Linked DNA regions of Homo sapiens: region 1 is linked to region 2. The links come from fine-mapping of genetic effects on gene expression. A gene starts in region 2. The other region holds a variant in brackets. All regions are shown on one strand. Distances are between the middles of the regions.

Region 1 (2,907 bases), 370 kb after region 2:
TGCTGTATTAGTTTGATCTCTACAGTAGAAATGGTGATTGAGTAGCTAGAGCCAATCATGTGCCCAATGCATGCCTATGCAATTGAATCCCAACAAAATACTTTGGACACCAAGACTCTGGTTGGTTTCTCTACTTGGCAAAACTTTGCACATGTCACATTATGACTGGGAAAATTATGTACTGCTTGTGTGACTCCACTGTGACAGGACAACTGGAGGCATGCACTTGGTCTCCTTTGAAAGCTTTCCTACCTCCTATTTTTTTTTCCCTAAATATAATCTGTATCTTTTCTATTTAATAAATTGTAGCCATAAATGTAACAGTTTTTCTAAGTGTTTTTAGTTTTTCTAATGAGTCATCAATTCTGACAGTGGTCAAGGAACTCCTGACAAAGTTAAATCAAAAGTGGAATTGCCTGTAATCCCAGCTACTTGGGAGGCCAAGGTATGAGAATTGCTTGAACCTGGGAGGTGGACGTTGCAGGGAGCTGTGATTGTGCCACTGCACTCCAGCCTGGGCGACAAGGCAAGACTCTGTCTCAAAAAAAAAAAAAAAAAGAAAAAAGAAAAAAAAAGAAATTTTCTAAAATGGACTTATTGAATTGTTGCAAAGTTATCATTATAGAAAAGGAAGAATTAATAGTAGGGGTTCATAAATATAATATTTGTTGCCTGGATGTCTACTGAATCATACATGGAATAAGACATCAGGTATGCTGTGAACAGTTATTAGATGTAAAGGTTACCAATAGAACTTAGAAATAATAGACCCAACGGATCTATTATTTCTAAGGAGTCAGAGCAACGGATACATAATAAGTAAAATAAATAAAAACAAGTGTTTAAAAATCTTAACAGGGAGGCTATTATAGTGGCAGTTCCAGTGCTTTAGGTTTCTAAGTAAGAAAGCCAGAATGCAATATAAACAGAACAAACAAAACTAGGGACTTTACCTATCAGAAATTGCCAATTAACCTTCAACTAAAATATAATCCTTTTAAGAACTACTTTTACAAAATATATATGACCAACTTATTAATGACAAAGTTGACAGTGCAGTAAGTAAATAATGTCTTATACTGGCACTAGTGGTGCCAAGCCTATTAGACATTCACACACACACACAGAAAAGATCTTGATTCTTATCTCAGGCCACACACATAAATTGATTATAGATGACTGTAGCTCTGAATGCAAAAGTTAAAATTATAAAGCTCTTAGAAGAAAACATAAGAGTGACATATGTATTATAATTGGCAAAACTTTTAAAAATAGAAACCAGGACCAGGTGTGGTGTCTCATACCTGTAATCTAAGAACTTTGGGAGGATTAGGCAGAAGAATCACTTGAGGGAAGGAGTTCAAGACCAGCCTGGGCAACATAGTGAGAATGCGTCTCTACAAAAAAAAAAAAAAAAAAAAAA[T/AT]TAGCTGGGCAAGTGGCATGCCCCTGTGGTCCTAGCTACCTGGGAAGCTGAGATGGAAGGATTGAAGGATTGCTTAAGTCCAGAAGTTTGCGGCTACAGTCAGCTATGACAATGTCAATGCACTTCACCAAGGGTGACAGAGTAAAACCTATCTCATACACACATATATACATATATAATAACAAATTAATTAACAAAAATAACCAGAAAAAAAGAAAAATTGATGTGACTACATTCAATTTAAGAAATTATTATCAAAATTAAGAAAATAAAAAACTAGAGTGGAAGAAGATATTCGTGTGTGTGTGTGTGCGTGTGTATATATCTGACAATATACTTGTATCCAGAATGTATAGAGTATTTGCAAATTAATAAGAAAAAGGTAGACAATGCAATATAACAATGCAAAAGTCTTAAACTGATACTTAAGAAAAATTACCTTCAGATGGCCATTAAACATATAAAATGACATCAACTTTATTAGTTATCAAGGAAATGCAAATTATATCTCAATGCAGTTCAGTTACATAGCCACCAAAATAATTAACATGAAAAAAGAAAACATACGAAATGTTTGCCAAGGTGTACAACAAATGAAACTCTCATGCGCTGCTGGTGGAAATGTAAATTGTAAGGACCACATTAGAAAACCATTTGGCAGTATATACTAAAGCTGAACATACGCATAACCTATAATCTAGCACTTTTTCTAGGTCTCTAGCATACAGCAATGTGACTACCTTGGCAACAAAGACATGCACTAAAAAGTTCAAAGCAAGAGTATTCATAATAGTCCCAAACTAGACACAATCGAAATTTTATCAACAATACAAGTTGATTTTATACAATGGAATACAATACAGCAATAAGTATAGATAGATTAGATTATGGATGAAAAAGAAGCAATGCGCCACTAAGAATGTTGAGTGAACGAAGCCAATCATAAAGAGTACACATTTTATGACCATAAAGTTCATAAATAGACAAAACTACTTAATGGTTTTAGAAATCAGGGTAATGTTTGCACTTGGTGGATAGGCAGAAACTACAAGAGGGCATCTAGATTTCTAGTAATCCATGCTTCCTTTAATTTTTCCTTTCTTTCTTTTCCTCTCTTCCTTCCTTCCTTCTTTTCTTTCTTTATTCCTCTTTTTAATGCTCTCCTTCTTGAACTGAGGGCTAGTTACCTAGGTATGTTGCAGAATTTTCTAACATTTATCAAGCTATATACTTATAACTTATGTATATTTATATATGTATAATATACTTCAATATAATTTTAATGACAAGCCCTAATACTTTTCTTAGCAATTGACAGGATACAAATTATAAATAAATATAAGGATTTTATATTTCTAAGAAACCATACTACATTTTCTATTCTTTTTCCTCCTTTTCTTCATATTTATTAAACCTTTTTCATTTCAGCATTCATATTGAAGACTTTGAAAATTATCCAGTGAAAATTGTACATGACCTTTATA
Region 2 (2,844 bases):
CTAGGGGTGGCGAGGTTGGCTCAGATCCTCGTGGGGGCCATTTTCTGCTGCTCCTATCTTCTTTGTTTTTCCTCTGAGGACCCTCATATTCGCCTCTGTCACTGCCACTGGCGGGATTTCACAGCCTTCCGGGGGCATGTGCTCCGCCCCCCAGGTTCTGCGGTCACTGTGCCAGAATCAGTCCCTGCAGGCACAGAGGGCACTGCCTAGAGACCTGGCACCGCAGCCCAGGTCTCTGAGGCCCCTGCAGCACGTGGCTGGGCAGGCTCGCTGGCCCTGTGTCCTCAGCCTTGGCAGCCTAGCCCGTGTTGGAGGCACCATCCTGCACTGACCAGGGTCTGCAGGTGGCAGGCATGCCACCGCCAGCCTGGACCCCAAGCCCTGTTCTTGTGTCCCTTGTTGCATGGCACAGAGGCCCCATCCAGGGAACTTATAAGCCTTCTCCTGGATGCCACCCCCAGGTCTGTCTGGAATGTGTGCACCTGTATCCTAATGCCAGCTCTGGGTCCTCTGACACCATTCTGCTTCAGAAGCAGCTCCGAATCCGTATCGCAGAGGGGACGAGTCCCCGGGCTGTGACTGAGCGCTTCCAGCTGCCTGGGTGTGCACCTTCCATCCCAGGAGTCCTCTTTCTCCCCGTCCCGGCCAGGACACAGGCTCTGAGAAGGGCGTTGCCCGATGGCTGGTGTTTCATTGACTTAGCCGCTAGCTCCACTCCCACAATTTAAGAATGGGGAGACCATCAGGACCCCAAAAGGTAGAGCTACTCACCTCACAGCCCCAGCAGGCTACGTCGCTTCATTCCCAGGCCGAAAGCGGCCACAGTCCCTGCCAGAAAGGAGCGATTCTCTGGCCCCGCTCCTTGAGGGGGTCAGCATGCGCAAGAGGCGCAGGCATCACCGGCTGGCCCGACTCCTCCTCACCAAGCTTCCCCCGGAGCAGCCGCGCAGCGCCCAGCTCGGGGCAGACGGCTGGGTCCTCTGTGGAACCATCCCCGACCGTCCCGGCCTGGAGCCCCGCCGGCGGCTAGCCCGGCGGCCAACGCCTCCCCTCCCCTCCCCCTCAATCCCGCCCCGGGGGCCGCCCCAAGCTCCCACTGCAGCGCCCCCAACGCTCTACCCGCTTCCCGATGCCCGCCTCCGGCCCCCCAATGCCGTCCCGCCGTGGTCGCCCCGGGTTCTCGCACGCCCCGCCCTCGGTTCCCACCGCTCTCCGCCTCCCCTTCCTCCATCCCCGCCGGGCAGGGCGCGCCCGAGACCCGCGCCGGGAGCGGCGGCCGGGGCCCCGAGTGGCCGGGAGGGGCTGGCGGGCTGGCGCGCGCGGCTCGGGTTTCGGCCCGCCCCCGGCGCCGGCGTGATCCCCTCCCGGGCGCGGGGCGGGGCCGGGCCCAGCTGGCCGCGCTCCGGGCGCTATAAGAGGGCGGCGGCCGCGGCGCGCCCTGCGCGGAGCTGGGAGCGCGATGGTCGGCCGCCGAGGCGCGGCAAGATGCTGGATGGGTCCCCGCTGGCGCGCTGGCTGGCCGCGGCCTTCGGGCTGACGCTGCTGCTCGCCGCGCTGCGCCCTTCGGCCGCCTACTTCGGGTAGGTGCCTTCGGCGGCCGGCGCGCACTGGTGGGCGGGGGCGGCGGGGCCGGGGCGGGGTCGTCCGGAGTCCCCGAGGCACCCGGGGTGGCTGGGGCCGGGGCGCGGCGGGGCCGCCGGGTTGCCTGGCGCTGTTTGTTTGCGGCGCGCGCGTCGCTCCGTCCGCTGCGCGGCACGGCTAGAGAGGCGGGTGGACCCGTCCGGCTTGCGCCGGGCCGCGGTCCTCCGTGACCGCAGAGTCGTCGTCGTCGTAGTCGCCGCCGTGAGCAGGACTGCCTCGCGCTTAGGGACTGGGATCAGGTCCCGACTTCCTTGGGCCGCCGTGTCCTTGCCAAAAGGCTGGAGCCTGAGTCCTCAGCCCCTGGCCATCGCCCACCTAGCAGCTTCCCCCCCTTTCTCTTCTCGAGAAGTTAATTTAACAATAACAAAAATACGTACAAAATCCAGATGTTCCTCGCGCTGAGCCCCAAACGGAGAGAGAGAGAGAAAGAGAGAAATCCTCCAAGCTGGAGGAATTTATTTTTCTTGCGCTTTGCTTCTGACTCTGTGGCCCGGGCCCCGGCCCGCGGGAGCGCGTCCATGGAACCTGGCCGGGAGCGCAGGGCCCGGCCGGGGCGTCCCGCGGTGTCATTGCCCGTGCTCACGTGTCTCTGCAGCAGCGCTTTGCCGGGCTGTCGGCGCGTCTCTCTCTTCCTTTCTTTCCCTTCCTTCTTCCCTCCCCCTCTCTGAGGTCTGGGATGCCCAGTCCTGCGACCTTTACAGGGACCCTCGCTGCGCTTTGGGCGCGCTGAGGTGCAGGGTGGCGCCGTGCGAGGCAGCGCCCCGGGCCTCCCCGCCACCCTCCAGCCTCCTACCCCGAGCGCCGCCGCTGGGAGCCCTGGCTGGCCTTCGGATCCCAGCCCCCGACCTGGACGCCCTGGGCCGCTCCCTCAGCCGGGCCGCCGCCCTCCGCCGGTCACCTGTTCCCGGCCCTCTGGCCTGAGCGCCAGCGCGCGGCGGGCTGGCCGGCAGAGGGCCCCGTTGGTCCAGGAATCTGGCACCCGCCCGGGCAGGGAGAGGCCGCCTGGGCCGAGGAGCCCTGCAGGTGTATCCTGTTCTCAAAGAAAATAAAATATTTTCATGGGAAACTTTCCCTTTGTGTTTTTCTTTCTCTCCCTTTCTTCTCTCTGTTCCTTTCTTCTGGGTCGTCTTCCAGGGTCAGCCCGGTGTCTCAGTTCCCTGGGGCCCCCACCCGCAGCCCTCTCCTGGCTCCAACTGTGGGTAC

Alleles and levels. Positions count from the first base shown, and alleles are read on the strand shown. Sizes are in standard deviations (SD) of each study's normalised expression.
For the expression in prefrontal cortex of the gene that starts at base 1,441 in region 2, allele T in region 1 goes with a higher level than allele AT (small effect, 0.35 SD a copy in ROSMAP).

The links. PIP is the estimated chance that this variant, and not a neighbour inherited with it, causes the effect.
Region 1: its variant is the best candidate, but not a certain one, in a credible set for the expression of WNT9A in prefrontal cortex (ROSMAP, PIP 0.52).

Annotation. Positions count from the first base shown.
Region 1 is chr1:227,581,004-227,583,910 of GRCh38, reverse strand. All of the region lies in intron 1 of ZNF678 (zinc finger protein 678), which reads right to left. Among named protein-coding and RNA genes, the nearest start is that of ZNF678, 19 kb to the right of the region's middle. The variant T/AT (reference allele first, on the strand shown) is at 1,424.
Region 2 is chr1:227,946,529-227,949,372 of GRCh38, reverse strand. It overlaps WNT9A (Wnt family member 9A), which reads left to right and starts at 1,441. Exons shown (of 4, transcript NM_003395.4): 1 at 1,441-1,580. The coding sequence starts at 1,486. LOC124904533 (a long non-coding RNA gene) reads right to left here. Exons shown (of 2, transcript XR_007066912.1): 2 at 2,070-2,671. RefSeq lists silencers at 1,327-1,406, 2,510-2,619 and an enhancer at 1,487-1,536.